4 linked regions of the Homo sapiens genome follow. The protein of the gene in region 1 interacts with the protein of each later gene in a biochemical or structural test. Each region holds a gene or a part of one and is shown in the gene's direction. Other genes may lie near its edges.

Region 1 (7,028 bases):
CTCGGCCTCTCAAAGTGCTGGGATTACAGGTGTGAGCCACTGCGCCTGGCCTTGTGTGTACATTTTTGGAACTCCTTTGGTCCTTAAAGGAAAACTGAAGTGGGTGGTGTTTCTAACCCATTTTCAGAAAGAGCATTAGTTTAGTGCTGTTCATGTCAAGCAAAACAGTGTAACCAAACTGTCTGCCTGGAGTGGGACTTCTGTAAAGATCATTATGAAATTAATGACTTGTGGCCGGGTGCGGTGGCTCACGCCTGTAATCACAGCACTTTGGGAGGCCGAGGTGGGCAGATTACCTGAGGTAGGGAGTTTGAGACTGTCCTGACCAACATGGAGAAACCCTGTCTCTACTAAAAATACAAAATTAGCCAGGTGTGGTGGCACACACCTGTAATCCCAGCTACGGGAGACTGAGGCAGGAGAATCACTTGAACCCGGGAGGCGGAGGTTGCGGAGAGCCGAGATCACACCATTGCACTCCAGCCTGGGTAACAAGAGCGAAACTCTGTCTCAAAAAAAAAAGAAGTTAATGACTTGTTTATTAGCAAACATGATTTTACCCATGAAAAGACTCCATTTAGACTGAGTGTGGTAGCTCATGCATGTAATCACAGCACTTTGGGAGGCCAAGGCAGGAGGATCACCTGAGATCAGGAGTTCGAGACCAGCCTGGCCAACATGGTGAAACTCCATCTCTACTAAAAATACAAAAAAATTAGCTGGGCCTGGTGATGCATGCCTGTAATCCCAGCTACTTGGGAGGCTGAGGCAGGAGAATTGCTTGAACCCAGGAGGTGGAGGTTGTAGTGAGCCAAGATCATACCACTGCACTCCAGCTTGGGCAACAAGAGCGAAAACTCCGTCTCAAAAAAAAAAAAAAAAAAAAAAGAGGCCAGGTGCAGTGGCTCATGCCTGTAATCCCAGCACTTTGGGAGGCCGAAGTAGGCGGATCACCTGAGGTCAGGAGTTTGAGACCAGCCTGCCCAACATGGTGAAACCCCGTCTCTACTAAAAATACAAAAATTAGCTGGGAGTGGTGACAGGTGCCTGTAATCCCAGTTAGTCAGGAGGCTGAGGCAGGAGAATCGCTTGAACCTGGGAGGCAGAGGTTGCAGTGAGCCAAGATTGTGTCACTATACTCCAGCCTGGGCGACAGAACAAGACTCCGTCTAAAAGAAAAAAAAAGAAAGACTGCATTTAAATAAGCATTTTGAAACCACTTGTTTTCTTTCTTTTATTCACTCTTTGAACAATCATTTCACTTAATGGATGCATACCCTGGGCCAGACTCTCTGTGCCATGTGGGGCCTGGGCCCTGCTCTTGCTCTTGTGACAGTGTTTTTTAGTGGGTATTGCATATGCCCCAAGTGGAAGGACCATAAAAAAGATTAAGGAAGCAGCTGCAGAAATTTATAATCTCAGCTTTTCTGCTACAGTAAATTTCTGTCTCTCTCTAGGTATCTTATTGACAGCCGGTGGTTCAAGCAGTGGAAGAAGTATGTGGGCTTTGACAGCTGGGACATGTACAATGTGGGTGAACATAACCTATTTCCTGGCCCAATAGACAACTCTGGGCTATTTTCAGGTATAGTAAATGTTGCTTTTCTAGCTAAACATTCACCTGGGCAGTGGCCTGATGTTATGTGCATCTGTAACATGGACGTTGTGAACTTTCCTAGTGTGAGGAGATAGAAACAAGTATCCTCATTTTGCATCTATAGCAGAAGTCTTTGCAAACCCTTAATGAGAAGTTAAGCTACTTTTTTCCCTTAAATTAACTGCATCTGATAAGAGTATGCTTCTAACATTTTAACTTTCTCTCTTTGCAAATTAGTTCTGCTAGCTATTTCACATTTTAAGTTAGTATATGGAATGGAAAGAAATAGGATGTCATTTTGAAATTGTATCTAAAATTTAAGAACCAGAATTTTTTGTTACCTTTGCAGTGGAACAAATTGTAAACCTGTGAACTTTCATCAAGAATTCCTGTGATGGCTGTTTTTATCATATAACTAGTGTGAGGAGAGGTTGAAGGTCAGTAGACAGAGTTATGACTGTAGTCAGCTCCCAATGGGAACTGTGGGAAAAGCGACATGTAACACACTAGAGCTTGCTTGCACTTGTACATGCACTGAGATGACAGAGTCAGCTTTTCCCAGGCTTTCTTTTGCCTGACTTCAGACCTCTTTAAAGTCATGATAGAGGTGATCTGTCATGGGTGTCAAAAATCAGGGCAGTGCCAGGAGTGGTGTCTCACGCCTGTAATCTCAGCACTTTGGGAGGCCAAGGCAGGTGGATCACCTGAGGTCAGGAGTTCGAGACCAGCCTGGCCAACATGGTGAAACCCCGTCTCTACCATGTTGGCTAGGCTGGCCTTGAGCTCCTGGGCTCAAGCTATCTTCCTGCCTCAGCCTCCTTAGTCACTGAGACTACAGTGTTCTACCACTCTCAGCTGTTTTTTAAGTTTTTTGGTAGAGACGGGGTCTTGCTATGTTGCCCAGGCTGGTTGAACTCCTGGCCTCAAGCCATCCTCCCACCTTGGCTTCCCAGAGTGTTGGTGTGAGCCACTGTGCCTGGCCTAACTTGGATATTTTTAAAACTGAGCAATGCTTCAGCTCAGACCTTGTTTTAGGAGAGGTCTACATGGTATAAACAATATCATTTACTTTGTTTCCTGAAATAGGTCAAATGGTGGCACTATGCCACGAAGTTGCCCTAAGGAATCATTTCATTATGTTCACATTTTGTTCTTTTTCTCATTTTTATGAAATGGAGAATTCTTAAGGTTTTAAATTCAGGCATACTTTGGCTTATTGTGCTTTGCTTTATTATATGTTGCAGATACTGCATTTTTAGCAAATTTTGTAGGTATTTGGCAACGCTGCCTTGACAATCTGTCAGTTCCATTTTTACAACAGCATGTGCTCACTTCATGTCTCTGTTACCACATTTTGGTAATTCTCAAAATACTTCAAAGTTTTTCATTATTATTTGTTATGGTGATCAGTGATCAGGGAGCTTTCTTTTTTTTTTTGAGACGGAGTTTTGCTCTTGTTGCCCAGGCAGGAGTGCAGTGGCATGATCGTGGCTCATGGCAACCTCCACCTCTTGGGTTCAAGTGATTCTCCTGCCTCAGCCTCCCGAGTAGCTAGGATTACAGGCATGTGCCACCACGCCCGGCTAATTTTGTATTTTTAGTAGAGATGGGGTTTCTCCATGTTGGTCAGGCTGGTCTTGAACTCCCGACCTCAGCCTCCCAAAGTGCTGGGATTACAGGCATGAGCCACCATGCCCAGCCAACAGGGATCTTTCATGTTGCTATTGTAATTGTTTTGGGGCATCATGAAGGGAGCCCATGTAAGACAGTGAACTTAATTGGTAATTATTGTGTGTATTCTCGCTGCTTCACCAACCAGCCATTCCATCTCTCTCTCTCTCCTCAGGCTTTGCTATTGCCTGAGACACAATGACACTGAAATTCGGCCACTTAGTAACCCTAACAACGTCTTCTAAATGTTCAAGTGAAAAGGAGAATTGCATGTCTCTCACTTCAAATCAAAGCTAGAAATGATTTGAGTTTGGTTAAGGAAGCCGAAATAGGTTGTAAGCTAGGCCTCTTGTGCCATATAGCTAGCCAAGTTGTGAATGTAAATGTAAACCTCCTGGACTTAAGTGATCCTTCCACCTCAGCCTCCTGAGTAGCTAGGACTACAGGTGCTTGCCAGCATTCCTGGCTCATTTTTGTATGTGTTTATTTTTTCTTTTTGTAGAGATGGAGTTTTGTCATGTTGCCTGGGAGATGGAGGAACCCAGGAAATGGTGGTTTCAGTGAGCTGAGATTGCGCCACTGCACTCCACTCCAGCTTGGGCGACAGAAGTGAGACTCCATCTCAAAAAAAAAAAAAAAAAGTGCTACTCTAGTGAACACATGAATTATAAGAGGCTGAAACAGCCTTATTATTGCTGATATGGAGAAAGTTTATTCATTTATTTTTTTTTTTGAGACAAGGTGCCATCTTGTCTCAAAAAAAAAAAAGGTAGCTACTGCTACCTCGTGCAGTAGCACAATCACACCTCACTACAACCTTGACCTTCCCAGGCTCAGGTGATCCTCCCATCTCAGCCTCCTGAGTAACTGGAACTACAGGCCCCACCACACTCGACTAATTATTGTATTTTTTGCAGAGATTTTTTGTGGGTTTTGTCATGTTGTTCAGGTTGATCTTGAATTCCTGGGCTCAAGCAATCCTCCCGCCTTGACGTCCCAGAGTGCTGGGATTACAGGTGTGAGTCACTGTGCCCAGGCTAAACAACAGGTTTTATTTTATTTTATTTTTATTTATTATTATTATTTTTTTGAGACAGAGTCTCACCATGGGGTTTCACCATGTTGGCCAGGCTGGTCTCAAACTCCTGACCTTAAGTGATCCGCCTGCCTCGGCCTCTCAAAGTGCTGGGATTACAAGCATGAGCTACTGTGCCTGGCCTAAACAACAGATTTTAAATGTAGACAAAACACCCTTCTATTGGGAAGATGCCATCTACCTCTTTGCTGCTAGAGGGGAAAAGTCAGTGCCTGGGTTCAGAGCCTTTTTTTTTTTTGAGACAGGGTCTTGCCCTGTCACCCAGGCTGTAGTGTGTGATCACAGCTCACTGCAGCCTTAACCTCCTGGGCTCAAGTGATCCTCCCACCTCAGCCTCCTGAGTAGCTAGGACTACAGTTGCTTGCCACCATGCCTGGCTGATTTTTATATGTTTGTTTGTTTGTTTGTTTTGTAAGACAGAGTCTCGCTCTGTCGTCTAGGCTGAAGTGCAATGGCACAATCTTGGCTCACTGCAACCTCCACCTCCCAGTTTCAAGTGATTCTCCTGCCTCAGCCTCCCAAGTAGCTGGGATTACAGGTACCTGCCACCACACCCAGCTAATTTTTTTTTGTATTTTTAGTAAAGACGGGATTTCAGCACGTTGGCCAGCCTGGTCTCGAACTCCTGACCTCAGGTGGTCCACCCGCCTTGACCTCCCAAAGTGCTGGAATTACAGGTGTGAGCCACTGTGCCCAGCTTTGTATTTTTTTTTTTTTTTTGTAGAGATGGGATTTTGCCGTGTTGCCCGGGCTGGTCTCCAACTCCTGGGCTCAAGTGATCTGTCTGCCTTGACTTCTCAAAGTGCTGGGATTATAGGCATGAGCCACTCTGTCCGGCCAGATTCAGAGCCTTGAAGGACAGGCTGACTCTCTTCTTAAGGGATACTGCAGATGGTGACTTTAGTTTGAAGCTAGTGCTCATTTATCATTCCAAAAATCCCAAGGCCCTCAAGAATTATGCTAAATCTGCTCTGCCTGTGCCCTACACATGCAACAACAAAGCCTGCATGATAGCATATTTATTTACAGCATGGTATACCGAATATTTTTGTTTTTATTTTATTTTTCTGGGACAGAATCTCGCTGTGTCGCCCAGGCTGGAATGCAGTGGTGCAATCTCGGCTTACTGCAACCTCTGCTTCCCGGGTTCAAGTTATTCTCATGGCTCAGCCTCCCAAGTAGCTGAGATTACAGACATGCACCACCAGTTCTGGCTAATTTTTGTACTTTTAGTAGAGATGGGGTTTTGCTATTTTGGCCAGGCTGGTCTCAAACTCCTGGCCTCAAGTGATCCACCCGCCTTGACCTCCCTAAGTGCTGGGATTACAGGCATGAGCCACCACAACAAGTTTACCGATTTTTTTTTTTTTGAGTCGGAGTTTTGCTCTTTTGCCCAGGCTGGAGTGCAATGGTGCGATCTTGGCTCACCACAACCTCTGCCTCCCAGGTTCAAGCGATTCTCCTGCCTCAGCCTCCTGAGTAGCTGGGATTATAGGCGTGCGCCACCACGCCCAGCTAATTTTGTTTTTTTAGTAGAGACGGGGTTTCTCCTTGTTGGTCAGGCTGGTCTCGAACTCTCGACCTCAGGTAACTGCCCACCACGGCCTCCCCAAGTGCTGGGAGTACAGGTGTGAGCCACCACGCCCGGCCTCCCAATATTTTTTTTTTTTTTGAGACGGAGTCTTGCTCTGTCACCCAGACTGGAGTGCAGTGGCGCGATCTCGGCTCACTGCAAGCTCCGCCTCCCGGGTTCACACGATTCTCCTGCCTCAGCCTCCTGAGTAGCTGGGATCACAGGCGCCTGGTGCCTGCCACCACACCCGGCTACTTTTTTTGTATTTTTAGTAGAGACGGGGTTTCACCATGTTGGCCAGGATGGTCTCAATCTCCTGATCTCGTGATCCACCCATCTCGGCCTCTCAAAGTGCTGGGATTACAGGTGGGAGCCACCGCGCCCGGCCTCCGGCCTCCAGCCTCCAGCCTCCCAATATTTTTAGCTCAGGGTTGAGACCTACTGCTCAGAAAAAGCACTGAGCTAATCTTATCAAAATGTTACTGCTGCCAGGTGCAGTGGCTTACGCCTGTTATCCCAGCACTTTGGGAGGCCAAGGTGGGCGGATCACGAGGTCAGGAGATTGAGACCATCCTGGCTAACATGGTGAAACCCTGTCTCTATTAAAAATACAAAAACAAAATTAACCGGGTGTGGTGGCGGGTGCCTGTAGTCCCAGCTCCTCGGGAGGCTGAGGCGGGAGAATAGCATGAACCCGAGAGGTGGAGCTTGCAGTGAGCCGAGATGGCGCCACTGCACTCCAGCCTGGGGGACACAGCGAGACTGTCTCAAAAAAAAAAAAGTTACTGCTCCATTGCAATGTACCTAGTTACCCAAGAGCTCTGATGGAGATGCATGAGGAGATTAATGTTGTTTCATGCCTACTAAAAACATCCGTTCTGCAGCCTGTGAGTCAAGAAGTAATTTCAACTTTTTTTGTTTGTTTGTTTGTTTGTTTGTTTGTTTTGAGACAGAGTCTCACTCTGTTGCCCAGGCTGGAGTGCAGTGGCTCAGTCTTGGCTCCCTGCAACCTCTCCCTCCCAGGTTCAAGCAATTCTCCTGCCTCCTCCTACCAGGTTCAAGTAATTCTCCTGCCTCAGCCTCCTGAGTAG
Region 2 (7,028 bases), on another chromosome or scaffold:
TTTTTTTTTTGAGAGGGAGTCTCGCTCTGTCACCCAGGCTGGAGTGCAGTGGCACGATCTCAGCTCACTGCAACCTCCACCTCCCGGGTTCAAGAGATTCTCCTTGAATTCTCCTTGAATCTCAGCCCCTCAAGTAGCTGGGACTACAGGTGTGTGCCACCATGCCCATCTGCTTTTTGTATTTTTGATAGAGACAGGGTTTTGCCATGTTGGCCAGGCTGGTCTCGAACTCCTGACCTCAGGTGATCCGCCCACCTTAGCCTCCCAAAGTGCTGGGATTACAGGCGTGAGCCACTGCACCTGGCCAAGCTCCTGCATTTGTAAGTGATGTATCATATATATAGGCTGTTTTTAGCTTTTGGGGTTAATGTAGGATAACCAGGGACACAATCTACAAAAGCAAAGTCTAGAATTCTTTTTGCTCTGTTACACATTGTTGCCTGTTTTTAGCATTATTTTCCTTAATTACATTCTTTTGCTACGTATTATAGGTGTTTACATTTCCTAAAGATCTCATTGTGATAGAGCAAGGATTATTAGTTGGTAGGTGAGATAATAGTAAATATAGCATATAAGGCTGGGCTCGGTGGCTGACACCTGTTATTCCAGCACTTTGGGAGGCTGAGGGCTGAAGGATTGCTTGAGCCCAGGAGTTAAAGACCAGCTTGGGCAATATGGTGAGACCTCGTTTCTACAAAGATTAAAAAAAAAAAAAAAGTAGCTGGGCATGGTGGCTTGTGCCTGTAGTCCTGGCTACCCAGGAGGCTGATGTGAGAGAATCACTTGAGCCCAGGAGGGTCTGTGCTGCAGTCAGCTATGATCATGACCACTGCACTCTATCCTGGACAACAGGGTGAAACTCTGTCTCAAAAAAAAAAAGGATATAAGACACATTTGAAGAGCTTTAAATATATCTGCTCCATCCATTTTTTTTTTTTTTTTCCTGAGACGGAGTTTCGCTCTTGTTGCCCAGGCTGGAGTGCAGTGGAGCAATCTTGGTTCACCACAGCCTCCGCCTCCTGGGTTCAAGTGATTCTCCTGCCTCAGCCTCCCAAGTAGCTGAGATTATAGGCATGCACCACCACGCCTGGCTAATTTTTGGTGTTTTTAGTAGAGACGAGGTTTCTCCATGTTGGTCAGGCTGGTCCCAAATTCCCGACCTCAGGTGATCCACCCGCCTCAGCCTCCCAAAGGGCTGGGATTACAGGCATGAGCCACCACGCCTGGCGTTTTTTTTTTTTTTTTTTTTTTTTAAGACAGAGTCTCACTCTGTTGCACAATCTCGGCTCGCTGCAACCTCTGTCTCCTGGGTTGAAGCAGTTCTTCTAGCTCAGCCTCATAAGTATCCGGGACTACAGGCAAATACCACCACACCTGGCCAGTTTTTATATTTTTAGTAGACAAGAGTTTCACTATTTGGCCAAACTGGTCTCAAACTCCTGACCTCAGGTGATCCACCTGCCTTCATCTCCCAAAGTGCTGGGATTATAGGCATAAGCCACATCACCTGGCCCTGCTCCATCATTCTGATACATGGCTTTAGTAGATTTTGTCTTAGCCTTTCGTTGCCCCTTCTTTGTCAGCCACTGTTCCAGGGACTTATTGTCACTAATGAGAGAACATAGCGTCTGTCAGCTGTGGCATGGTAGAAAAAAGGTTGAGAATGATTGCTGTGGAGAGTGTGTTCAACCATAGAGGGACTCAGTTTTCTCATCATGAAAATTATGTGTAATTTAACTATATATTTTAGGTACCTAAATGCTATTTTAGGTATATCAAGCACAAGAACCCATTATAGAGAGTGGGTTTTTTCATTGTATTTCTGAGACTCCTCTCTTAGAATCATCTCTACCCGCATATCGTGTTTTCTTTTCTTCCTACAATTTTAGTACAGAGGAAAATCCCAAGAGAGAAGATTATTTTGGAATCACAAATCTTGTTGAACATCCAGCCCAGCTCAATCCTCCAGGTAATGTATAGATTCCTGAATCAAGTCTCTAGAGCAGCATTACCCATTGGAAATTTATACAGTGAGGAACATGTTCTGTATCTATGCTGTTCAATACAATAGCCACTACCCATGTGTAATTCTTTTTTTTAATTCAGTTTTTTTCCTGACAATAGTTTGTTGTTTGACCAGTGAACATACATTTTAAGTGCATATTCCTGTGCTTAGAATTTCATGAGACAGCCAAGCATGGTGGCTCATGCCTCTAATCCAAACACTTTCGGAGGCCAAGGCAGGAGGATTGCTTGAGGCCAAGAATTCAAGACCAGTCTGGGCAACACAGTGAGACCCATCTCAAGGAAAAAAAATTTGGCTGGGTATGGTGGCTTATGCCTGTAATCACTGCACTTTGGGAGGCTGAGGTGGGCAGATTGCTTGAGCTCAGGAGTTCGAGATCTAGGCAACATGGCAAAACCCCATCTCTACAAAAAATAAAAAATCAGCCGGGCATGGTGGTGTGCATCTGTAGTCCCAGCCTCTTGGGAGGCTGAGGTGTGGAGGATGGCTTGAGCCTGGGAGGTGGAAGTTGCAGTGAGCTGAGATGGTGCTGCTGCACTCCAGCCTGGATGATACTGCCAGACCTTGTCTCAAAAAAAAAAAAAAAAAAAAAAGAAGAAAGAAAGAAAGAAAAAAACCCAAAATTTCATGAAGCTTTACATTTACAGTTCCCTGGTTGTTCCTAGGAAAGAGCCCTCAGCTTGCTCCTTTTATAGAACCACATGTTGTTGTGGCATCCACAGCTAAATGCAAATGCAAGAGCCAAACTCTTGGGTTGGTGTGTTATTAGATGCGATATGCTCCACTACCCACTGTGAGGGATGCTAATTCCAAAGGGCTTTTTGTTAGTTTCCCAAAGTTGAAACTGGGAAACAAAGTTGCTTCTATTTTTTTTTTTTTTTTTTTTTTGAGGAGGAGTTTCGCTCTTGTGGTCCAGGCTGCAGTGCAACGGCATGATCTCAGCTCACCACAACCTCTGCCTCCTGGGTTCAAGCAATTCTCCTGCCTCAGCCTCCTGAGTAGCTGGGATTACAGGCATGTGCCACCACGCCCAGCTAATTTTGTATTTTTAGTAGAGACAGGGTTTCACCATGTTTGGTCAGGCTGGTCTTGAACTCCTGACCTCAGGTGATCTGCCAGCCTTGGCCTCCCAAAGTGCTGGGATTATAGGTGTGAGCCACCGCGCCCGGCCTTTTTTTTTTTTTTGAGTTGGAGTTTCGCTTTTGTCACCCAGGCTGGAGTGCAATGGCACTATCTCCGTTCACTGCAACTTTCACCCCCCTGGGTTGAAGCTATTCTCCGGCCTTAGCCTCCGGAGTAGCTTGGATTATAGGTGCCTGCCACCACACCTGGCTAGTTTTTGAACTTTTAGTAGAGACAGGGTTTTGCCATGTTGGTCATGCTTGTCTTGAACTCCTGACCTCAAGTGATCTGCCCACCTAGGCTTCCCAAAGTGCTGGGTTTACCGGCGTGAGCCACCGCACCTGGCCCTAATTTTGTTTTCTACATTTGCCAGGTATCATTGAATGAGGGGGTTTAACAGCTTAAAGGAAAACAACTAAGAACACTACTTAAGAAAGATAAGAGGCCAGGCGAGGTGGCTCATGCCTGTAATCCCAGCACTTTGGGAGGCCGAGGCGGGCAGATCACGAGGTCAAGAAATCAACACCATCCTGGCTAACAAGGTGAAACCCCGTCTCTACTAAAAATACAAAAATTAGCCAGACGTGGTGGCGGGTGCCTGTAGTCCCAGCTACTCAGGAGGCTGAGGCAGGAGAATGGTGTGAACCCAGGAGGCAGAGCTTGCAGTGAGCTGAGATTGCGCCACTGCACTCCAGCCTGGGCAGCAGAGCGAGACTCCGTCTCAACAAAAGGAAAGATAAGAATGTTTTTTAAAAACATAGCCATATTGCCGGGCACCAGGCCTGAACTGATTTTAATCTTACTGATCCCTTATTAACGAGTTTTCTTCATTTTCTATTTAAAGTTTATACACACACACACACACACACATGTTTTTTGAAATGGAGTCTCGCTGTGTTGCCAGGCTAGAGTGCAGTGGCAAGTGGCACAATCTCGGCTCACTGCAACCTCCACCTCCCGGATTCAAGTGATTCTCCTGCCTCAGCCTCCCGAGTAGCTGGGACTACAGGTGCGTGCCACCACGCCCAGCTAATTTTTGTATTTTTAGTGGAGTCAGGGTTTCACCATGTTGGCCAGGCTGGTCTCGATCTCTTGACCTCGTGATCTGCCCACCCGTGCCTCCCAAAGTGCTGGGATTACAGGTGTGATCCACCGCACCTGGCCTCAATATATTTTTTACATAAAATGTTTATAATAGAGTTGGGTCTCACTTGGTTGTCCAGGCTGGTCTCGAACTCTTGGGCTCACGCCATCCTCCCACCTTGGCCTATCAAAGTGCTAGAATTACAGGCATAAGCCACTGTGTCCAGCCTAAAGTTTCTTTTAATGATATTGATATTTACCTAGGTTTCTTTAATATTTTTATTGCTGTCCGGGCCTGGTGGCTCATGCCTGGCCAACATGGTGAAACCCCATCTCTACTAAAAATACAAACATTAGCCAGGCATGGTGGCGTGTGCCTGTAATCCTAGCTACTCGGGAGGCTGAGGCAGGAGAATTACTTGAACCCAGGAGGCAGAGGCTACAGTGAGCTGAGATCGTGCCATTGCACTCCAACCTGGGTGACAGAGTGAGAGAGAGAAAAAAAAAAAATATATATATATATATATGTATTCTTACTGCTTTGGTATACTAATATCTCTGCCTGACAGTTGACAATGACACACCAGTTACTCTGGGAGTATATCTTACCAAGAAGGAACAGAAAAAACTTCGGAGACAAACAAGGAGGGAAGCACAGAAGGAACTACAAGAAAAAGTCAGGCTGGGCCTGATGCCTCCTCCAGAACCCAAAGGTGCATTTCTCAGTGGCCTCTTCTGTTAAAAAGAGTGGCAAGTTTATGTCTTTAATCCTGGAGGAACTTTAACATCTCTGTGTTTGAGTGATTTCTGTTTCTAAGAATTATTCTTGGGGTCCTTTTTCTCCAAGTTTTCTACCATCTTTTCATATTAAGATAGGTCAACACATTCATTATAGAGGCCATTTATGGCTTATTTTTAAGCATACTGATCATACAACACTCTGGTTTTCCTGGAAGAATACAGGTCTTGAAATTCATGGAGATAGTAGTTGCAGTATTTGCGTAGACTTTTTATGTACATAATTCTTAATGTTTTAATTTTTACAATGAAAGTACAGGATAAAAAACTTGACCCTGTAGTTACATTCTCGTTCAGCAGTATTTTGACTGAGCACTATTATTTATAAGCTCTTTCACTAGATGCTGTGATCAGTGTGAAAAATATGAAAGGAATTAAGTTCCACGTCCTTCATAAATTTTCAGATAATGTAAATGCATACCAATCTTCAACTTAATTGTGTGAACTTCTGCAAATGCTGAAGTGATTGGATGGGATTTTCAAGATAGGAGTTATTGGAGGAAGTGAGTTTAGAGCAGAGATTTGAAATAGGTAAATAATATGAATTGGTATGGAAGAAATAACAAGTTACTCCAGCTGGAGAAGTGACTTCAAAGACTGATTGTTGTCCTCTCTTCACTGCAGTGAGAATTTCTAATTTGATGCGAGTATTAGGAACAGAAGCTGTTCAAGACCCCACGAAGGTAGAAGCCCACGTCAGAGCTCAGATGGCAAAAAGACAGAAGTAAGTGCCATGGGATTGGGTGGAAACCTCGGGCAAGTACCTTTCCCAAACTCTTCTGGGGGGTCCATATTTGGAGGGAGGGGAGAGTTCTCCGTTGCTCTCTCTTTCCCTCAGCCCTGCCTCTGATCTTCAATGCCTTTCTCACTTGTGGATGTCCTTCCTGTCACGACAGAGCGCATGAAGAGGCCAACGCTGCCCGAAAACTCACAGCAGAACAGAGAAAGGTCAAGAAAATTAAAAAGCTTAAAGAAGACATTTCACAGGGGGTACACATATCTGTATATAGGTAGGTGTCCATACTGGGCCAAACTTCCCCTTAGAATTACTAAAACATTTTCCAAGTGCTTGAGGCAGAATCATTGTGGCCTAAAAGCATACCTAACACCAGTTCCTACTCTCTTTTAATGACCCTAGTGTGGATCAAGAGCTAGTAAATCTTGTAAAATAGCGAGAGTTAATGACTTATGTTTATGGTTACCCAGTTCTTCCCTCTCAAGTCTTCTTTTTTTTTTTACCAGAATATTAGTTCTGAACAAGTCAATATACTTGTTCAGGCCAAGATGTGAACTAAAGATTGTATGTCCTTTGAGAACTATAAAATATCATCCTATTTCTTTTTTTTTTCATCTTTTTTTTTTTAAATGGTCTGAGTTTGCTTCCAACATCCATGGAAGCATTACAAATTTTCTTTCCTCCGTAGTCATATCCTTACCCTGATGTATTGCTGTGTTTCATCCTCACTCCAAAATGCATTTTATATGTTGTAAATATTTTTCTACCTTTGTGTTGATTTAATGTTTTTATTCTTTTATGTTGAGTACATGTGTATCTTCTATTTTTAAAATGTGCTTATTTCTATTAACTAGTTCTTTATTATAAAAGTGGTACATTATCACAAAAATAGTGAATGCTTATTAAGATTTAAAAAATTGTCTGACAACACAGAAGAATACTTACTCAAAATGTCTCCTTTCTATTCTCTGATCCCTTAGAACCACTCTCTTTAGGTAATTGCTATTAACAGTTTTTCACATATCCTCCTAGAAAATTTTCATGCCTATATAGTGATCCTATATATATATTTTATTTATTTATTTATTTATTTTGAGACGGAGTTTCAGTCTTGTTGCCCAGGCAGGAGTGCAATGGCGCGATCTCAGCGCACTGCAACCTCTGCCTCCCAAGTTCAAGCAATTCTCCTGCCTCAGCCTCCTGAGTAGCTAGGATTACAGGCACGCACCCCCACGCCCGGCTAATTTTTGTATTTTTAGTAGA
Region 3 (7,028 bases), on another chromosome or scaffold:
GAGTGCAATGGCATGATCTCGGCTCACTGCAACCTCCGCCTCCCGGGTTCAAGCTGTTCTCCTGCCTCAGCCTTCCGAATAGCTGGGATTACAGGCGCCTGACTAATTTTGTATTTTTAGTAGAGATGGGGTTTGACCACGCTGGCTAGGCTGATCTCGAACTCCTGACCTCAGGTGATCCGCTTGCCTTGGCCTCCCAAAGTGCTGGGATTACAGGCATGAGCCACCACACCTGGCCTAGTGCAATGTTTTTATGACAAAATGTAACATTTTGATCTAGCCCAGGAGTGTCCAATCTTATGGCTTCCCTGGGCCACAGTGGAAGAACAGCTGTCTTGTGCCACACATAAAATACACTAATGATAGCTGATGAGCTTAAAAAAGATTGCACAAAAAAAAATCTCATAATGTTTTAAGAAAGTTTACAAATGTGTTGAGCTTCATTCAAAGCCATCCTGGGCCGCATGCAGCCTGTGGGCTGTGGATTGGACAAGCTTGATCTAGCCTGTAGATCAAGAAATTCTGGAATATTTAGAGAAATATGGAGGTGAAAGGTTTTTTGTTCTACCTTAGGGAAAATAGAAGATAAGAAGTCTTAGAGAATCATTAAAATTGTCAACATCAAAGACTTTAGCATTATCAGAATGAGATTTTCTTGTTCAGGGTGTTCTGCATCTTAGGAAATGCCTTTGGCCTGGGATGGAAATACTACTGAAAAATCCTAACTTGAAGAAGATAACTAGAAATGTAGTTTATCTCAGGTTCCAGTGACTTATAGGAAGCTGAAATACAATGGAGAATTACTGGTAATAATATATGGAAAACTGAAATCATGCATGATGCAGAAATCTTGTGCACAGTGACTGAAATTGGAGGCCGGAGAAGACACAGATTCAAACCCAGGGCCAATAAATGTTCACGAAAAAGCTAAGATGCCTTAGACATAGATTTCTATTTATTAATAATGTTATAATGAGTTTTTAAATTTTTATGTATTTATAGAGTCAATATCTTGCTTTGTTGCCAGGCCGGAGTGCAGTGGTACAATCATAATTCACTACAGCCTTGAACCCCTGGGCTTCAAGTGATCCTCCTCTCTCAGTCTCCCAAGTAGTTAGGACTACACCCATGTGCCACCATGTCCAGCTGATATTTTTATTTTTTGTAGAGACAGGATCTTGCTATGTTGCCCAGGCTGGTCTCCAACTCCTGAGCTCAAGCAATCTTCCTGTGTAAGCCTCCCAAAGCACTGGGATTATAGGCATAAGCCACCGTGCCTGGCTTGTGATGAGTTTTTTTTAAAGCACAGTGACTATGCTGAAAAAAACACTATTTCTTCTAGTAAATAATTAAAATAGAGTTCATTAAATTTATGTGCATCTATTAAGATACATATATCGATTTGTATGCTTTTACATTTAACCAACTTCTTCAGTTAGCCAACTCTGATCTGGGTCATGTTTTGTGTAAAATTTCAGTCCAGCAGCTTCCAGGATGGCTGGGGAATTACTGTAAGCAACAAACTCAGTCAACCTGCACATCAGTCAGTGCCATAGATTTCATAAATAACACGTTTCAAATATACATACCATTTAAAAGTATATTTAGGTGGTATAAGGATTAATAAGATACTAATAGAATATTATTTAATTTGTCGTAACCTTTTTGCCATTGTCTATTTTCTCAAATAATGAATTCTAAAAAATGCCAGACTTAATAGGTCTTAGGTTTTTCTTTTTCAGGCTCTGTCAACAGACTCAATAGAAAGACTCCCAGTGTATAACAAAGCTGCCTGGAAGCATTACAACACCAACCACGAGGCTGATGACTGGTGCGTCCCCAGCAGAGAACCCAAAGACATGACGACGTTCCGCAGTGCCTAGACACACTTGGGACATCGGAAAATCCAAATGTGGCTTTTGTATTAAATTTGGAAGGTATGGTGTTCAGAACTATATTATACCAAGTACTTTATTTATCGTTTTCACAAAACTATTTGAGTAGAATAAATGGAAACTGAATTCCATTTGTGCCCGTTAAACCTCCTAAAGGATGAAATTGCACCTATTTTACACTTATATTTTCACAGTTAATTGAACATATTTTTAAACAACTGTAGTTTTGGGCAACTTTTCACTTTGTGGTAGACTTCAGAAGTGTGGAAATCTTCGGGTTTCTATAGGAAACTAGTTTTTTTTTTTTAAGAAATACTTTCATTTATGTTTGCTAGAAACATTTTCTAAATGATAGTGATTAGCTGGTTAGCCATCTTCCTGTTATTTGGAGGAGTTCTGCCATCTTTTATTCGGTAGTGACAGCTGTAATATGGTCTTCATGTTTATCAGTGACTTGACTACAAGTAAAGCAGAAAACAGTTGGCCTGTAATCACAGAACCAGCCACCCTTCGGCGTCTACATGCATTGTCTTAGCTCTGAGGTTAATTTACCATTTTTAAATTTTATTGTAAAGAAGTGTAATGACTAGCTCTCTGTGGATCTATGCCAAAATCATGGGCCATCTTTTCTAAGTGTACTTCTGATTAATGCAAGGGGAAATTTTTATACTGAAAACAAACAAACAAACTAGCAGCTACTAAAATAGAGAAGAAATTGAGGGCAAAGTAATATGTCTCCAAAACTGAACTGATTGCTTGTTGAGATTACCTAGAAAGCTTTTGGAAAAAAATAGAGCTTTTCTGCATCCTACTCCAGATACACTGAATCGGAATCCCTAGGGCTAGAGCCTAGAAATCTCACTTTTTAAAATGCTTCCAAGGTAAGTCTGATGCCTACCCTAGGTTGGGAACCACTCTTTCAAAGTAAACAGTGATGACACAGCATTTGCTAAAGTAACATCTGTAGGTTTTGGTTTCCACCTATTTAAAGTCAGATTTATAGACTCGAGGAGACAGAAACTGAATCCCACACCTGGTGCAATTAGAAGCATAATTAGAAGCAGAAGAACAAAATGCCACGTAACCAAAGCATCAGAGCCATCATTGCACGTGTCTTTTTTTCTTTTTTCTTTTTTTTTTTTCAAGACAGGGTCTCGCTCTTTTGCCCAGGATGGAGTACAGTGGCATGGTCAAGGCTCACTGCAGCTTCAATCTTCTGGGCTCAAGTAATCCTTCCACCTCAGCCTCCCATATAGCTGGAACTACAGTTGTGCACTACCACACCCAGCTAATTTTTTGATTTCTTGTGGAGATGAGGTCTCAGTATGTTCCCAGGCTAGTGTTGAACTCCTGAGCTCAAGAAATCCTCCTGCCTGAGTCTCTGAAAGTGCTGGGATTACAGGCGTGAGCCACCACACATGGCCTATTGCACAAGTCTTGACAAACAACATATATTTTCTAAAACTATCCAGATTTCATTATCAGGGAAAAGTTTGCTTAGGTTTATTACAGCAGTCCTTGGCATTTGTATGGTAATTTGTACTTTACAAATACTTTGATATATTATAACTCTATTGGTCTTTGAAACAAAGCGATACAGTGTAGGTGGTATCATTCTCTTTCTCACTCAGTGTGGCCCAGAGTTGCTCAGAATTGGAGCAGAGCCTGAGACGTATCTGCAGATCCTGTCATCAGCTGGCAAGTCCAGGAGACTGTGTCATTTAGAGACTGTGTTGTTAGTTATCCCTCAACATCTTCTAAGGTGGCAGGAAATAATATTGGAAATAACATTTTAAAGTAAAAATTTTAAAGTTTAAAGAAGAGTTTTGCCACTTAAACAGGGGAGCTTTGTCTGGAAAATACACTGAGTTGAAACACTTCATCCTTGGAAGGATTATATAAGATGAACAGTTGTGATAAATGTGTAGATTAGAGGGATGTGAATGGGCAGTTAGTCCAGTGCCCTCATTTAAGAGGCCAAGATCCTGATTCAGAGGAGGCATCCTTTGCCCAGAGCTGCTTAGCTAATCTGACCAAATGTTGGGAAAAATGTCTCACCTAACCCACTATTCCTTAATTATGGATTTTGTGAAAAACAATAGAACATGTTAATGAGTAATTTATATTAGTTCGATGTATTACAATTTTTTAGCTTTAAATTACAGTTTTCTTATAATGTTGAAATGTTTTAGAATCCTTTGAATCTAAGTATTTGTTTCCTAAATGAAACATTTGTACAACATTTGATGTTTTTACTTATGAAATATTCTCCTCCCCCAAGAAAATTTAAACTTTTTCTCTCTATTTAAAAGCTAAGAAATGTTTTAAAGGAAAAATGAAATTATCTTCCTTTAGCTTATTTTTAAGGTAAAACAGCTTTTTACTCTGTTATTGTGGTAATGGACAGAATATTACATACAAAAATATTCTGGGAGAGCTTTTTCCTAGTTGGTTTTAAATCATTGTGCCACCTGAAAGGTTTTTAGATTTTATAGGAGCTAATTTGTCCACCAGCATTAATGTAACACAGTGTAGTTATGAAAATATATTGAAGGACAGGAAGTGGACACGAAGTGATTTTTGTAACCTGAGCAGTTAATGAATGTGCCAACATTTTCTAGGAAGGGACAGCAAGAATATTCTGCTCTGTAGTTAAAATACTGGCTGGCTTTTGATGTCTTCATGCTTAATTGTGATCACTTTCTTGCACTGTGATGTTTTTACGTGAATATGTTGAAGTAGAAGTCTACCATATTATTTTATAAAATGTTTTCTGTATGGCAATAAACTGAAAACATGGATCAACCCTTCTTTTGAAAATAAACTGAGTCAATTTAGCCTTTTAAAAATATAGTCATCTCTTTTAAATAGAATCCTCTTCCACCATCAAGGCTCAACATTTTGTAAGCATCCAAAAAATTGGTAATTAGGGGGCTTGCACTAAATTTCACTATCTTCAGTAGAGAGGAACTGTTTGGAACTTAGATTTCCAATGTGTATATTCTAATGGAGAAAGCAAGAGGTAGAGTTTGTATGTTTGACTTACCTTAGATTTTTATTTTCCATACATACTGCAAATGATTGACTTGTTGCATAAATGAAGATCTTCTGTTGTGTGCTTTTCAAACACTGTAAATAAATTTGAAATTTGAATAACTTTCCACAGTATAACTGTAAAAAAAAAAAAAAAAAGTCTTAATTTAACCAGCATTACCCTCTGCTTGTACCAATTGAATGGCAGAACTACTATAGTCAAAAATAAATTCCTATCCTATTTTTAATTGATGGGATATAGGCAGCACAATTTCCCTTCATTGTTGAAGCCAACAAGTTCCGTAACAGAACTCCAGAGGTAAATAGCTGGGAAAACTGTTAGTTTTAAGGTCCCACTGTTGCTCTGTGAATGACTAATCAGAGGAAGCCAAAAATCAGCCAACTAATTTCAGTTTATGTCTTTAATTGTGATGTAAGTGTGAAGTTTCTACATATGGGTAATCAGGGTTGAGTTAGGTAGTTTGCAAACATGACTTTTGCTGGAGGAACTTTTAATCATGTCTTATTAATTTCTGGTCCCAATAATTAATTTTCTTACAGTCAAACCCAATGCACTTGAAAAATAATATAATTAATACTGTGTGAAGAATTTTTTGCATGTTAAAAAAAGCAAACCACTAGTTTGCTTAGTTCTGGCATTCATAAACTACTGTACCTTCTGTTCTATTGACATGTTTGGAAAAAAGAATTGAACATATGTACCACCCCCCTCTTTCTAGAGTCTCCACAGTTCTTTAGCAATTGCTAACCATAGGTTTTTAATAGCAAAAGACAAGATTGTCAGTTTTTGGTGCAAAACTCTACTCTTTTTGGTTGACTTGGAAAAGCTGTTGTTTATATTGGGAATTGTGACAGCTGTCTTTTACTTTGTTAAATTAGCAATTATTTAGCAAAAATACAGAGTTTCACCCCAGTAAAATAAACTTCCACGTGAGAGTTGTGTTCATTCAAGGGTTATTTTTTGAGAGTGGAAGTACATTTCCTGCATTTGTCACAGATAATATCAGAAATTTTGTTGTTTTGATTAAAATGTTGCCATCTACTTATAAGTTAAAAATGCTGAGAAGGTTTTTTTTGGAAACAGTTTATGAGGCCAGGACATTTTTAAGTTTGACTCAAATATAAAAAGCCACAGTATTCTTGCCATGGTTTTGTACTTAGATGTCTCTCATTATGGAATTCAGAATGTGACAGTTATAGTACTACATGAAAATACTTAATATAGAGTTCTACAGTTACAGTATTGCATGAAAATACAGTATGGTATGAAATTATTTGTCCAAAACTGTACTCCAGAAATGGAGCCCATATGATTATATAACTATAAAATAGGATGGGACAGAGAAAAATATGTCTGTATTACAGCATAAACATATCTGGTTTAATATGAACTATTTCTTTTCATCTCTTTACTCTCAGTATCTCCATAATGGCCAGTATGTAGTAGGCACCTGTAATTGTGAAGCAGCCTCATTGTCTGGGGTAAATACCAAGGTTCTTGGTCTCATGGCCAAGGAGATCGAGGTCGCAGACACACACAGTTTGGAGCAGGAGTTTAATAGGCAAAAGGAAACAGCTCTGTTACAGAGAGGGGTTCCGAGCAGGTTGCCAAGTTGTAGTAAAAATGTCAGGGTTTTTATAAATGGGCTAGTGAGGAGGGGGCTCATGAGGAGGGGATATCTTATCCTCCTAGGGTCCGAGGACGCTTTAGTTGGGACCAGGTGTGCTATCTGTACAGAGCATAGCTTTTTATCAGCTCTTATCCCATTCCTTGACCACATAGGCTCTTAGACTCTTATTCTATGTTGTCTTCGTCCAGCTTATCTGGAAGGGAGAGTTTCTCTGTCTGTTCCCATACATCTTGCAGCTGCAGGCATCCCCCCGGTCTGCTTTTAGCTTCCTTATCTTAGTGCCCCTAAAGGGAAAGGAATGTGCTTATTAAGGGCCACTGTTTTACTGGGGTTAACTGCATGAGGTCAAAAAGAGCTATATTTGAGCTGCTGTTTGTTAAAAGAAAAGTTTTCTGCCGGGGACTCGCTTTACCCTGTCTACCTAAATTCTTTCTGCCTTCTATAACAA
Region 4 (7,028 bases), on another chromosome or scaffold:
ATTGTATTATATCAATATAATTAGAAACTGTAAAAAAAATAATAATTCAACTACAGGCCAAATATGCAGCCATTTAGTAGATACATATTTCTAAGACATTAGCTGATCTTGCATTTCTAATATTGTAACTCAGTAGTATTAGTTTGGCACATCTTAGATTCAATTCAATTCAGTCAAATTAGGTAAGGTCTCAGCCTCAGAAATCTGCCTAGGTACTTTTTAAACATCATTTAGTGTTTACCATCTAGAACTGGCTGTAGAGAATGTTGGAATAAAAGAGGGGATGGGTTGCAAGAAGTGTTACACAGGGTAGTATAGTGGAAAGTGTTCTGGACTGAAAAAGAAAATTTAGATGCTGTACTGATTCTGCCATAATATATTTTTGTAACTTTGAGGAAGTCACCACATTTTTCTGGGCCTGTGGTTACTCATGTAAACTGACTGAACAAGATCATTTAAGGTCTTTTCCAGTTCTAAAATGAAAACACATTCATGTTTTCCAGTATTTAACTGTTTTCTATAGTAAGCTTAGCAGTTCTTTAAAGACTGATCATGGTCTCCTATAGAATTCAGTTGGTGACCAACTAATCCTGGGTTGACAGGGCAAATGATATCCCATTGTACAGATATTGACAAGCAGTCATAGAGTTTGACTTGCCAGAAGCCGCATGCCTAAGTAAATGGTAAAGCTGGGAATTGAATATGAGACTTCTCACTTGTGAGTCAGTTGCCCTTTCCACTGGATTTACAGTGTCACTCAGTACTTTCTGAAGTACTCTATAACCAAACCTAATATGGGAAAGGGGAAACAAAATACTGATTTCCTTTTTAGTGTAGTTGGTCCTGAGCATTTAATGAACATTCTCATCTGTGCGTAATACTCTGAGGTACTATAAAAGATAAATAGGGCTTGGTGCGGTGGCTCACACCTGTAATCCGAGCACTTTGGAGGGCCAGTGCGGGCAGATCACTTGAAGCCAGGAGTTCAAGACCACCCTGGCCAACACGGAGAAACCCCGTCACTACTGAAAGTACAAAAATTAGCTGGGTGTGGTGGCACAGGCCTGTAATCCCAGCTACTTGAGTGGCTGAGGCATGAGAATCGTTTGAACCCAGGAGGCAGAGGTTGCAGTGAGCTGAGATCATGCCACCGCACCCTAGCCTGGACAACAGAGGGAGACTCTGTCTCAAAAAAAAAAAAAAAAAAAAGATGATAGAAGAATCCTAGGATTACCTCCTTAAAATGTCTGACTTAGTATGATATCAGACTGGAGTAAACACAGAACAGTTAACTATAGACCACAAATTTAAAACTGAATATAGTGTAAATTAAACACTTAAGCCATAATTTGAAAATAGAGTTAATCACAGAAGGTTCCATTGAGTAGGGACAAGTTTAAAACTAGGTTTTGAATAAAGTGACCATCGTGGGTTGGGAAAGTCACTAAGATGAATTTTCTTTGTAGTTGTTCCTCTGCCTAAAGCGCTGTTCCCCCATAACTTAAGATGACTGACTCCTCACCAGTCAAGTCCCACCTCAAATGTTATTAACACTTCCTTAGAGAAGCATTCCCTGAACAACCTAGATCTTTTGTCATTTCTATTATCTTTCATGGTACTTACCAGTAACTGAAATTGTGTCTCTCCTTCAGCAAAATGTAAGGCGCTTTATTCACTTTTGTAACCCCAATGCCTAGAACCTAGAAGGTTCTCTATACATATTTGTTCAATGAGTACATGAAAGTATCACAGCATAATCATAAGAATTAAATGCCCATCTTGTTCTCTTATATTACATGTGATAAAATAGGAGCTGAGTTATGCGATTTGGCTAAGGCAACACGTTAGAAATGAGATCCGAGTCTTGTTTTAATGTCGACTCTATTATAGTTAGCAGATACTTTTGTTTAGCAGGGATAAAAAATGCTGTAAAGGGCCAGATGCTATGAGTAAGCCACGTATGGTAGGTCTTTACTACAGAGTGCTAAAAAGACACTATTTACAATGGTTGCTTTTGAAAAGGGAGACCCATAATGCTGACCTCAACTATAGTGTAGGAACAAAGCTATAGTATTGGACACATAAAATTACTGCAGCATTTGTATATATTCTTCAGCTTTGTTAAGGAGACACACAAAAGTTTTGTTTTAAAAGCTAAAATATGCTACAAAGAGGAGATATAGATAGAACTTAAACAGTTATATGTACTTTGTAGGTTTAAGTTATAAATATATGGGGAATTGGTATTAGAGAAAAACCTAATTTATAGTGGTCTAAACAAACTGAGTACATAGATTTGTTAGTCACTATTTAATTATGGATACCTAAAATAATCAATACATTCTTTCATGTGAAAGTGACCACTGATTTCAGTAGAAATCTGGAATTACTATAGTTAAGAGGTAGCTACAGAGATAATTTTTGCATTGTACACGTGTAGCTTAAAAGATAGCATGAGCATATTATTTGAAATAAAAGCCTAGAAAATGGGTGAGATGTACTGTGGCAGGTATTAAAAGACTGCATGAAACATTCAGAAGAAAGTTTGAATAATCAAAGCTTTACTTTTATGTTATCAAATCCATCTTGTCAGCAGATGGCAGTTCCACTCTGCCACAGTTTATTAATAGATATTGAAGTTCTAACATAGTTGGAGGCTCCAAGTCCTAACTAATAAATGTATGATCTATGCTTGTTCTGTCTTGTTCCGCATTTCCAGCCAGAACAATGCCAGCATCACCAGGGGTCCATTCAGATAGTTCATAGAACAGGGCCAAATGAAACTGACAGCTGTAGTCACTGAACTAAAAATAACATGAATTCAGAACAATTAAAAGAATTATTTAATAATAAATTAAGAGCACAAAGGCATACATCCTTTTCCATTTAGGTTAGGTGTGTGTTTGGTTGTTTTCTTTAACATGACTTGTCTGAAGGAATGGAGTCATCTTACATCATAAAGAAATTAATTTTTAAAGGAATTTCTTTAAAAATAACACACAAACACACAAAACCTGATTTTTGTTTTTGTGCCTTTCAATAGTAGTTGCATGGAAATGTTCTATATACCATCTCATATTCTTCTGTATTTTTTATTAAGAAATTAAATTTAAATCTACTTAATTGTATGAGACTAAAGTTGTAGACCCAAAACAAAGAGGTTTCAACCATAGGGGGAGAAATGCTTATCATAAAGTAATTAATCAAAAACATTTTGATTTAGAAAACATTCATAAATTTAGAAGGAAATATTTCCAAATTGACCTCCCTTTTAAAACCAAAGTCCTTTTTGCATTCCTCTGTTTTTTACAAATGAAGGATTATGAAGAATATCTGAAATATTTATTTGTATGTCACCATTTTAGTTGGATGTGTGTGATGGGGAAATACTTGTAACTTGATATGTTCTCTTTTTTACTCTTGATGAAAATTCATCTTTGGGGAAAAAACAGTCATTTAAAATAATGTTGGGCTAGGTACGGTGGCTCACACCTGTAATCCCAACACTTTGGGAGGCCAAGGTGGGAGATTGTATGAGGCCAGGAGTTTGAGACGAGTCTGGGCAACATAGTGAGACCCTGTCTCTATAAAAAATTTTAAAAAACAAAAAACCTAATTGTTAATTACAGTGTGTCAAATAAACTGTATTATTCAGAAAAGAATACGGTTCAGAAAGCACGTTTGATTTGTGAACTTGGACTAGAAATTTGGTAGTAAATAAAAAGTGGCCTTCTTTCAGTGGTTTACAACTTGAATATTAAGTTTTTTCATTGTTTACCTCAGTTGCCAGTATGTCTCAAGAGTGGCCATCTATGCCACTTTTTTTCTGTTGATCTACCATATGTCAAGAAAAATATCAAATTTGCTTTCTGTAGTTTGTAACATTGGCTCATTCCTTATCTAATAATGTACATAATCTCCTTATGTGTTTTTAGGCTTGGCCTTTGCAGTCCAGACATACTATTATTCTACATCTGATCTTCTCCACGATTTTATGTTCTTGATTAATACAATAAGGAAATTTGTTACCAAGATATTTGCATTTGAAACATTTTCTTAGAAATATGTGATATATTTTTTAAAAATCTATACACATGTAAGATTTTCCCCAGTCAGTGGAGTGCTGTTTTACATAGCCTGAGAGGTGGAGTGCAGACAGTAATGAACTTTCTTAACCAGCGTTTCCTGTTGGAGCGGTGGTGTCCACAATTTTTTGTTTGTCTGTCTCCCACTGGTAAAACAAAACACTTTCTATTTTGTATACTCAGTTTTCAGTGTGTATGTATGAAGTCGGTATTTTTAAACAATGGGAGATGAAAGGTTTCATACTATCATTTGATCATGGCTCAAGTTGCAATAAGTACTTTCTAAATAAAACCTTTCTAAAATGTGAGAATTGACTTAATTAAAATGAGATAATATCTGTAAATCTACTTAACTAAGGTCAAGTAAACTACAATATACACAAGTGAGGGACTGATAATGGAGTCAGTATTTGACATATTGAACTTAATAAGCCTGTAGGACCCCTTAGTCTCAAAGGCAGTTTTAAATATATCTTGAGCTTGGGCAAAAAACCTGGATGGGAGAGATTTGAGAGTATGAATCCATGAGATTAGAGAACAGATTCAGAAACAAAAGGGCCAAGGACAGAACCCTGGAAAGTAGCAACATCTAAGGTTTGGACAGAGGAAGGAAGAATCAGTGAAGGAGGCTAAAATAGAACTCTTAAGCAGAGACAGGCAGAGAAGGGATTGTTGACAGCCATCTTTGGAGACTGCCATAAGCCCTTTATACACAAGCCTTCTATTAACCCAACTTCACTCTTTTCTTAAAGGAGATTAGGGCTTTTTAAAACCCCCTTCTAAACAGCTAAAATCTGATTCGAATATAATCTTTTGAAAAGTTAATTGTTGTTAGTTATCATACTTGCTGCCTTTGAGTAGCATTTTTCTCTGTACCAGGCACTGGACCAAATCCTGGCAGGCCTCTGTTTTGTTGGCACCATGAAACATACCTGAAAGCTGACTCTGATTTACTAATTACATGATCCTTGAATAGGTAACTTCAGTTCTTGGAGCCTTGGTTTTCTTCTCTCTAAGGTAGGAATAAAAAATCCTATATATTCATGGGTTTATGGTGACACTCAAACTCCATCATATTTGTAAGAAAGAGCTTTACAAGTTGTAATATATTGTTAAATATAAGGTTGCATTATCGTTATACAGATAATAAAATTGCATTTCTTTAAAATGTTATTTCTTGAAGAAAGGAATGAGAAGTATATTGGAATGCCCTGGGAAGCTTTTTTTATGCTACGTAGCACCTTCTGCCACCTCTAATTCCCATTCAGACTTCTCCCTTAGAGAGCTAATATCAGAATGGGGGGAAGGAGAGCAAAATATACCAGGAAACAACTTTATCCATTGTATATATCATCTGATTATTCTATCTTCTACTCTTATGGATATATGCTTATACTCTTTTTTGTTTAAAGCACAAAACTCCTGTCTCTGGCCAGGTGCAGTGGTTCACGCCTGTAATCCCAGCACTTTGGAAGGCCAACCCAGGCAGATCGCCTGAGCTCAGGAGTTCAAGACCAGCCTGGACAAGATGGCAAAACCCCGACTCTACTAAAAATACAAAAATTAGCTGGGTGTGGTGGCACAAGCCTGTAATCCCAGCTACTTTGGGGTGGCTGAGGCAGGAGAATCACTTCAGCCAGAGAGGCAGAGGCTGCAGTGAGCTGAGATCGCGCCACTGCACTCCAGCATGGGCAACAGAGTGAGACCCTGTCTCAAAAAAACAAACAAAACAAAACAAAACAAACTCCTGTCCTCCTGCCGGTATTTCTTACTTGTTTTTAAAAGTTAAGAAATGTAACTATTTTTCTATAAACTACTGTTTAATTATGAGTCATTCCTCTTTTCAACTCAGTAGAGAAAAGCATTTAATCTTGCCACAACAAGGATAATTTCCATGTAATACTTACCTCTTTTATGTATCTTTGTACTCAGAAATTTCAAGATTAATTCGGTTATTTCAAAATTCAGTCTTCCCCCATAAGGATTTTCCTTTTCCCTTTCTCCTGCCCAAGATGACATATGGGTGCTGTGGAAAGCTTCCACAAATAATATAAACAGCAAGGGAGAGCTCTCTGGTCTGTGTGATGGCTTCCACTGAAATATCTTGCCTTATTATCTGTTGTTAATGGATTAGCCTTGAATGCAGTGATTTTCAAACATTGAAACTACCTGGAGGGCTTGGTAAAACATGGATTGCTTGGCCTTACCGTCAGACTCTATAATTCTGGGTTGCACCCTGAGAATTTATATTTCTAATAAATATCCAGGTGATGTTGATACTGCTGAACCGGAGACCACACTTTTAGAGCCACTGGCATATGCTTTCACTGTCCTTATATCTGCTTTCCTTCTGGAACGTCTTTTTCTTTTGGCTTCTCTGACTCTCTCCTAGTTTGCCTGCTACCATATTGACTGTTCCTTCCTGTTCCTTGCCCATTCCTTCTCCTCTCTTGTGATCTAAATGTTGAACTGCTTCAAAGCTCAGTTCCTCTACTCCACTATCTCCATATTATTTTTGGTTACCTCTTCCAACTGATTGACTAGAAAAACTGACTACATGCTAATGACTCCCAAGTTTGTATCTCTTTGTCTGACTTCTCCATAGATCCTCTCACTCACGTTTCTACCTTCTTACTTGATATCTCCTCTTGGATATCCAGTAGGCATCTTAAACTTCATATGACTAAAACCAAACTCTGAGTTATTAAAAAAAAATCTGCATCATTCTTATCCCTCAGTAAACTGTTGTCCAGTCTAGGTGTTTTCCTTGATTCAGCTCTTTTCCTCTACACCTGTCCTGCCTGGATGCAGAGCATCAGCAAACCCTATTGACTCTACTTCTAAAACATTTCCCAGATCTGCCCAGTTTCTGCACTACCATTGACCTTGCCCTCGTAGCTATTGTTGCTTGTTTGGACTGCTGTAATGGCTTCCTAATGGGTC

The links.
Region 2: the proteins of USP4 (region 1) and PRPF3 form a complex in vitro, tested with the Homo sapiens proteins (one study listed by BioGRID).
Region 3: of the proteins of USP4 (region 1) and PDK1, one has a biochemical effect on the other in vitro, tested with the Homo sapiens proteins (one study listed by BioGRID).
Region 4: of the proteins of USP4 (region 1) and MAP3K7, one has a biochemical effect on the other in vitro, tested with the Homo sapiens proteins (2 studies listed by BioGRID).

What each region holds. Positions count from the first base shown.
Region 1 is NC_000003.12:49,330,026-49,337,053, reverse strand, and holds part of USP4 (ubiquitin carboxyl-terminal hydrolase 4), read left to right. Parts: intron 1-1,457; coding exon 1,458-1,585; intron 1,586-7,028.
Region 2 is NC_000001.11:150,338,509-150,345,536, forward strand, and holds part of PRPF3 (U4/U6 small nuclear ribonucleoprotein Prp3), read left to right. Parts: intron 1-1,889; coding exon 1,890-1,969; intron 1,970-3,521; coding exon of another isoform or gene 3,522-3,535; exon of another isoform or gene 3,536-3,644; intron 3,645-4,800; coding exon 4,801-4,944; intron 4,945-5,653; coding exon 5,654-5,753; intron 5,754-5,867; exon of another isoform or gene 5,868-5,925; coding exon 5,926-6,039; intron 6,040-7,028. UniProt on the Homo sapiens protein: Plays a role in pre-mRNA splicing as component of the U4/U6-U5 tri-snRNP complex that is involved in spliceosome assembly, and as component of the precatalytic spliceosome (spliceosome B complex).
Region 3 is NC_000002.12:172,594,087-172,601,114, forward strand, and holds part of PDK1 ([Pyruvate dehydrogenase (acetyl-transferring)] kinase isozyme 1, mitochondrial isoform 2 precursor), read left to right. Parts: intron 1-1,742; coding exon 1,743-1,883; 3' UTR 1,884-7,028. UniProt on the Homo sapiens protein: Kinase that plays a key role in regulation of glucose and fatty acid metabolism and homeostasis via phosphorylation of the pyruvate dehydrogenase subunits PDHA1 and PDHA2.
Region 4 is NC_000006.12:90,577,062-90,584,089, reverse strand, and holds part of MAP3K7 (mitogen-activated protein kinase kinase kinase 7), read left to right. Parts: intron 1-7,028. UniProt on the Homo sapiens protein: Serine/threonine kinase which acts as an essential component of the MAP kinase signal transduction pathway. Plays an important role in the cascades of cellular responses evoked by changes in the environment.